Homo sapiens: one gene and its partner. The protein of the gene in region 1 purifies or fractionates together with the protein of each later gene. This does not show direct contact. Each region holds a gene or a part of one and is shown in the gene's direction. Other genes may lie near its edges.

The links. The genes of interacting proteins can lie anywhere in the genome.
Region 2: the proteins of PSMD5 (region 1) and PAAF1 purify together in Homo sapiens (affinity purification with mass spectrometry; 2 studies listed by BioGRID and IntAct, with this or other methods). This does not show direct contact.

The regions. Positions count from the first base shown.
Region 1 is NC_000009.12:120,822,401-120,826,053, reverse strand, and holds part of PSMD5 (26S proteasome non-ATPase regulatory subunit 5), read left to right. Parts: intron 1-1,368; coding exon 1,369-1,560; intron 1,561-3,653. UniProt on the Homo sapiens protein: Acts as a chaperone during the assembly of the 26S proteasome, specifically of the base subcomplex of the PA700/19S regulatory complex (RC).
Region 2 is NC_000011.10:73,911,384-73,915,036, forward strand, and holds part of PAAF1 (proteasomal ATPase-associated factor 1), read left to right. Parts: intron 1-3,029; coding exon 3,030-3,121; intron 3,122-3,653. UniProt on the Homo sapiens protein: Inhibits proteasome 26S assembly and proteolytic activity by impairing the association of the 19S regulatory complex with the 20S core.

The DNA.
Region 1 (3,653 bases):
CACTGCACTCCAGCCTGGACAACAGAGTGAGACTCCATCTCAAAAAAAAAAAAAAAAAAAGATCAGGACAAGGATGCCCACAATTACCACTTCTATTCAGCAAAGTACAAGAAGTTATAGCCAGAGCAATTAGGCAAGATAAATAAATAAAAGGCATCCAAATCGGAAAGAAAGAAGTGAAAATTTCCCTGTTTGCAAGTGATGTAATGTTTTATTAATATATAGAATAAAGTTTCCACCAAAAAACTGTTAGAATGAATAAATAAATTCAATAAAGCTGCAGGATACAAAATCAGTGCATAAAAATCCGTAGCATTTCTATACACTAACAGTGAACTCTGAAAAAGTAATCAAAGATACATTCCCATTTACAATAGCATTCAAAAAAAATTAAATATTTATGAATAAATTTAAGGAGGTGAAAGATCTGTACACTGAAAACTATAAAAACTGATGAAGGAAATTGAAGAAGACACAAATAAATGGAAAGGTATCCTATGTTCATGGATTGGAAGGATTAATATTATTAAAATGTTCATGCTGCCCAAAGCACTATATAGATTCAGTGCATTCCCTCCAAAATTTTTAAATTTAATGACATTTTTCACGAAAGCAGAAAAAATAATTTTTAAATATACATATTTCAGAATACATTGTTCACAATAAAGATATATGATTTTTTGTCAGTTAAAAGTTAATTTTTTTAAAAAGATACCTATAGCCTCTTATTGAGGTGGAATCTGTTGCTCTTGGAGCTACGTACTGTTGACTTTGGTTTTCTGGAAACATCAGTGCTATTTAGAACATTAGGATATTTTTCTTTTTGAATATCAACAAAAACATAAATAAAAATACTAGTAATGACATTTACAGTATGTTTCACAGATTAATCACATCTCTGAGTGGGAGTCTTTATCTGTTGTAGGATCTACTCTTGCCATTCTATTCTGGGTTTTGGTTGATTAGTCTTTCTTGAACACTTCCAGAAATTGGAGATGTATGCCTGCCTTAGGTAGCCTAGCTTATTTTATTAATGAACATATCCATTTAAAAATTTCTTCCTGGTAATGAGTCTAAACTTGCCTTCCTGTAATTTGTATCCACTGGTCCTTTTTCTTTGTTCTCCCTCTTGCATATGCCAGTACTTCAATAGCTGGTCCCAGCTCCATTGACGCCCTCTCTCAGGATCACACATCACAGGTCCTTCAGAATCTCCTAATGGTCTCTCTGATCTCCAGGCAACACACTACTCTAACCTTTCTATGCTTTTCTGGCCTGCAGTTCATTTCTGTTCCTGTGAAGTCATAGAGCCCGCAATTCATGCTGTCTTGTTCCCCTATTAAAATATATTTTTGTAAATCTCTTTAGGATTCGTGAAGTTTTTTGGAAACCTGGCTGTCATGGATAGTCCTCAACAGATCTGTGAGCGTTATCCTATCTTTGTGGAAAAAGTCTTTGAAATGATAGAAAGTCAGGACCCCACTATGATTGGTGTAGCTGTAGACACAGTTGGAATCTTGGGATCCAATGTTGAAGGAAAACAGGTTTTACAGAAAACAGGTTGGTATGACTTGGCCCTGTTCAGGGATATCTTAATCTTTGACAGGGGTTCAATATGTAAGTTCATTTGCTGGTGGGTTAACTACATTGTAGAAACTATTTTATGGGTGGCAGTCTTGTTAACCATGACCTTGTACTCATGTCTGAAAATCTAATAATTATTACGGAAAACCTTTTTTTTTTTTTTTTTGACTTTTCACTGGTTTAGGTTTTCATTGGTTTAGGTTTCTACCAATCGATTTCAACCAAACATTGTTTCCTGTTTCCCCTCTATGATGTCTTCTTTGACTAGATTTCATGGTACAAAGACCACGGGCTAGAGTCAGAAAGGTCTGGATTCATGTCCTTGGGTTTTCTATTCTTTTTTTTTTTTTTTTTTTTTTTAAGAGATTGAGAGTGTCTCTCTGTTACCCAGGCTGGCCCCGAACTCCCGGGCTCAAGCAATCCTCCTGCCTCATCCTCTTGATTGGCTGGGTCTACAGGTCCACACCATTGTATCCAGCCCTGACTTTGCTTTTTGAACTTCATTTACTCACTTCACTTTTCTAGGCCTCATTTTCTTCATTTATAAAAATGGCATAACAACTGCTTCTCAGGGTTGTTGTGAATATTTATGAAATTTTGAGAAAGGAAAATAAAAGTTTGTTATAAGATTTCATGTTAAGAGATACTTTTGGCATGTTAAGAGATACAATGGTTCATGCCTGTAATCCAGCACTTTGGGAGGCTAAGGTGGGTGGGTTGCCTGAGCTCAGGAGTTCAAGACCAGGCTGGGCAACATGGCAAAATCCTATCTCTACTCAAGAATACAAAAATTAACCAGGCATGGTACTGCACAACTGTAGTCCCAGCTACTTGAGAAGCTGAGGAAGGAGAATCTCTTGAACCTGGCAGGTGGAGGTTGCAGTGAGCTGAGATCATGCCACTACACTCCAGCCTGGGTGACAGAGTGAAATTCTATCTCAAAAAAAAAAAAAAAAAAAGAGGCCAGGTATGGTGGCTCATGCCTGTAATCCCAGCATTTTGGGAGGCCAAAGCAGGTGGATCACTTGAGGTCAGGAGCTCGAGACCAGCCTGGCCAACATGGTGAAACCCTGTCTCTACTAAAAGTACAAAAATCAGCCAAGCGTGGTGGTGCATGCCTGCAGTCCCAGCTACTCGGGAGGCTGAGGCAGGAGAATGGCATGAACACAGGAGGTAAAGGTTGCAGTGAGCCGAGATCACACCACTGCACTCCAGCCTGGGCGACAGTGCGAGACTCTGTAAAAAAAAAAAAAAAGAAAGAAAGAAAGATACTTTTATGGAACATCCATGAGGATCAACAGCACAACAAATTTTACACACAAAATAATATGCAGCCCAATTATTAAAATTCTTGAGACACATATGTTGAAAATTATCTCACCTGTAATCCCAGCACTTCAGGAGGCCAAGGCGGGAGGATCGTTTGAGCCCAGGAATTCAAGACCAGCTTCGTCAACAACAACAACAAAAAAAATTAGCCAGCTGTGGTGGTGCATGCCTATAGTCCCAGCCACTCGGGAGGCTGAGGTGGGAGAATCATTTGAGCCCAGGAGGTGAAGGCTGTAGTGAGCCTTGATCACTCAGTTGCACTGCAGCCTAGGTGACAGAGTGAGACCCCATCTCAAAAAAAAAATTTAAAAAGAGGCCAGGCGAGGTGGCTCATGCCTGTAATCCCAACACTTTGGGAGGCCAAGGTGGGTAGATTACCTGAGGTCAAGAGTTCGAGACCAGCCTGGCCAACATGGTCTCTACTAAAAATACAAAAATTAGCTAGGTGTGATGGCAGGCGCCTGTAATCCCAGCTACTCGGGAGGTTGAGGCAGGAGAATCGCTTGAACCTGGGCCGTGAGTCGAGATTGCGCCATTGCACTCCAGCCTGGGTGACACAGCAAGACTCCATCTCAAAAAAATAAAAATTAGAAAATAGAAAAAGAAAAAAAGAAAATTAATACGCTGTTGTGTATCACAGCTAATATTTTTGTTATATGTCGTTTTCTAAGTGCTTTTACCTATGACAATCGTTTTACAGTCCTGCAAAGAACATACATTGTCATTTTCATTTTCCAGAT
Region 2 (3,653 bases), on another chromosome or scaffold:
TGTTGCCCAGGCTGGTGTTGAACTCATGGCCTCAAGTGATTCTCCCATCTTAGCCTCCCAAAGTGCTAGGATTACAAGCATGAGCCACAGCTCCTGGCCCTAAAGTAATTTAAATGAGAATATTTTTTCTTGTTTTCTGTAATTTTTCATTTCCCATTTACTCTTCAACCCATTCTAGGATGGTTTGTGCCCAAGTACTTGACTGAAATGGCTGTTGTTAAAGTCACCAGTGACCTTCCTTTTTTTTTTTTTTTTTTTGAGATGGAGTCTCACTCTGTTGCCCAGGCTGGAGTGCAGTGGTGCGATCTCTTGGCTCACTGCAGCCTCCACCTCCCAGGTTCAAGTGTTCGAGTGATTCTTGTGCCTCAGCCTCCCGAGTAGCTGGGATTACGGGTGCCCACCACCATGCCTGGCTAATTTTTGTATTTGTAGTACAGATGAGGTTTCACCATGTTGGCCAGGCTGGTCATGAACTTCTGGCCTCAAGTGATCCACCCTCCTAAGCCTCCCAAAGTGCTGGGCTTACAGGTGTGAGCTATGGGCCCCAGCCACCAGTGACCTTCTTCTTGCCTAATCCACCTTGTTTCTCTGTGCTTGTCTTTCTGAATTCAGTGGTATTTCACATAGTAAACCCTCTCCTCAAAAAACTTTTTTTTTTCATGGCTTCTGTGATACCACATAACACTGGTTTTCTTCCTATTTCATTGACTGCTACTTCTTAAAGGTCTCCTTTTATGAAACTCCTCTCTTCTACCTTTAAATACTAGAGGGCCCCACTATTAAGTTCTGGGCCCTCAGCTATAACTACAGTTTCTTCCTTTGTGACCTCATCTGTTCTATAGCTATCATTCCAAAGTTCATGTAAAGCATAGACCTTTCACCTGAGTTTCAGACTCTATTTCGATGTCTAATAAATAAGTTGAACTTACCTTGTCTAACAAGGAGTGTTTGATCCCTCCCCACCCCAAACTGTTTTTTTCCATCTCAGAAGATGGCACCGCTATCTACCCATTTGCTCAAGCCCAAAGCCTGAGATTCACTCACAGTCCACCCTCTCTTTCCTCATGTCCCACATCAGCAAAGTCTATCATCTCTAACTTCAAAGTGTTTCTAATTTTTCTATTTCTCCCTCTCCCTCCCCCTCTCTCCCTTCCTCCTGTCAACATCTGGTCCAAACTATCATCATCTATTGCCTGTACTACTGCCTAGACTATTCTCCTATAAGCCATTCTTTTCAGAGCAATCTTGTGGTCATTTAAGAAAATCATAAGTCATGTCACATTCCTGCTTAAAACTCTCCAGTGGCCTCCCTTTATAAATATGTTGAAATCCTAACCCCTTAGCATGGTTTACAACAAGCTCTTATACTTTCTGACCCCTACACTTCTCTCCAGTCTCATGTCATACCACCCTCTGCCATGTTCACTACATTTCAGCCACAGGCCTTCAGTTTCTTCTTTCAGTACAGTAGACTCTCCCAGTCTCCTGGACTTTGCCTTCTTTTTTTTAAATTGAGATGGAGTTTCCCTCTTTTGCCAGGCTGAATGCAGTGGCACGTTCTCGGCTCACTGCAACCTCCACCTCCTAGGTTCAAGCAATTCTCCCGCCTCAGCCTCCCGAGTAACTGGGATTACAGGCGTGCACTACCATGCCTGGCTATTTTTTGTATTTTTAGTAGAGATGGGGTTTTGCCATGTTGGCCAGGCTGGTCTTAAACTCTTCACCTCAAGTGATCTACCTGCCTTGGGCTCCCAAAATTCTGGGATTACAGGCGTGAGCCACCGCACCTGGCCTGACTTTGCCTTCTTTTTCCCTTGGTCTGGAATATACTCCTGCAGGTCTTCACATGACTGGTTTCTGTTCACCATTCAGGTCTTGCCATTCAGTTGAAAAGTGACTTCCACAGAGGCTTTTTAAAGTTAAAGTTTAGGCTGGACGTGGTAGCTCACGCCCATAATCCCAGCACTTTGGGAGGCTGAGGTGGGCGAATTGCTCGAGCCCAGGAGTTCAAGACTAGCCTGGGCAATATAGTGAGATCCCATCTCTATAAAAAATATTTTAAAAAATAAATAAAGTTGAAGTTTACATTTAAAGTTACCCTCCCCATCTAGCCTTCCACCATCTATTCACTTCTGATCTTATTTTCCTATTTTATTTTATTTTAGAACTCATCACTTTCTGAAAGTATCCTACTTGTTTATTTACCTATTCACTAGAATCCTTGAGAGTGAGGACCTTATCTGTTTGTTCATCACTATTTCCTTAGCAGTTAGAATAGTGTGTGATGTCATCACATAGAAGATGAGGGTAAAAAAAGAAAAAAAAAAAGAAAAAAAGAATAGTGCCTGATACATAGTAGGCCCTAAAGAAATATTTGGTGAGTAAATGAATAAATTTCATTTTCTCTAGGCTGTAAGATCTTTGAGGTCAGAGACTGTTTTTTGCAGTATTGTATCCCAACTCCTAGTGTGGTGTCTTATCATGGTACAAACAACTTAATATTTTAAAAGTTGGGCTTATTGCCAGCCATGGTGTGCACACCTGTAGTCCCAGCTACTCAGGAGGCTGAGGTGGGAGGATTGCTTGCACCCAGGGATTCAAGACTGTGGGGTGCTATGTTTGTGCTTGTGAATGGCCCCTGCACTCCAGCCTGGACAACATACTAGACTCTGTCTCAAAAAAAAGTACACACACACACAGGCACATTTTAAAAATAAATTTGGATTTACTGAGGTATCTTTTACATATGGTAAAAGTCACCCTTTTCCTTGGCTACTGGATACCATTAAAAAACATTTTTAAAATGTAAAAGTAAAGTCAGTATTTTTAATTGTATAGTTCTGTGAGTTTTGACAAATATATCCAGTTGTATAAATAATACCACAGTGAGATACAGAACATAATAAATGTTTTCTTTGTAATAAGTGAATCGCTAACAAAATCAGTAATCAACCATCAGTATTGGTGCTGTGTGGGCACTACCAGCTGATCAGCCTCACTGTTATTAACATAGTTTATTTGTCATGCAGGTGAACGGGAGGTTGGAACAGAGGCCAAAATGCTGCTCTTGGCCCGGGAAGATAAGAAACTTCAGTGCTTGGGACTACAGAGCAGGCAGCTGGCAAGTGGTTCCTATATGACCTTTGAACTCTGAGGCAACCTGGGTCACTCTGTGTCTTAGAAAGCTATTTTGGAAACATTTCTACTTGCTCCCTGTGTTCACTTTTGAGAAGGCTGCGTGAGTAAGAGGCAGTACAGTGTAATGATTAAGAGTTGTGGGATTTGGAATAAGGGCAACATTTAAATCCCAGTTCTTTTTTTTTTTTTTTTTTGGAGACAGAGTCTCACTCTGTCGCCCAGGTTGGATGGAGTGCAGTGGCGCAATCTCGGTTCAGCTCACTGCAACCTCCACCTCCTAGGTTCAAGTGATTCTCCTGCATCAGCCTCCTGAGTAGCTGGGATTACAAGCCCACCACCATGCCTGGCTAATTTTTGTATTTTCAGTAGAGACGGGGTTTCACCATGTTGGCCAGACTAGTCTCAAACTCCTGACTCAAGTGATCCGCCTGCCTCAATCTCCCAAAGTACTGGGAGTACAGATGTGAGCCACTGAGCCCAGCCCTGAATCCCAGTTCTTGTGCAGCACTTGCAGA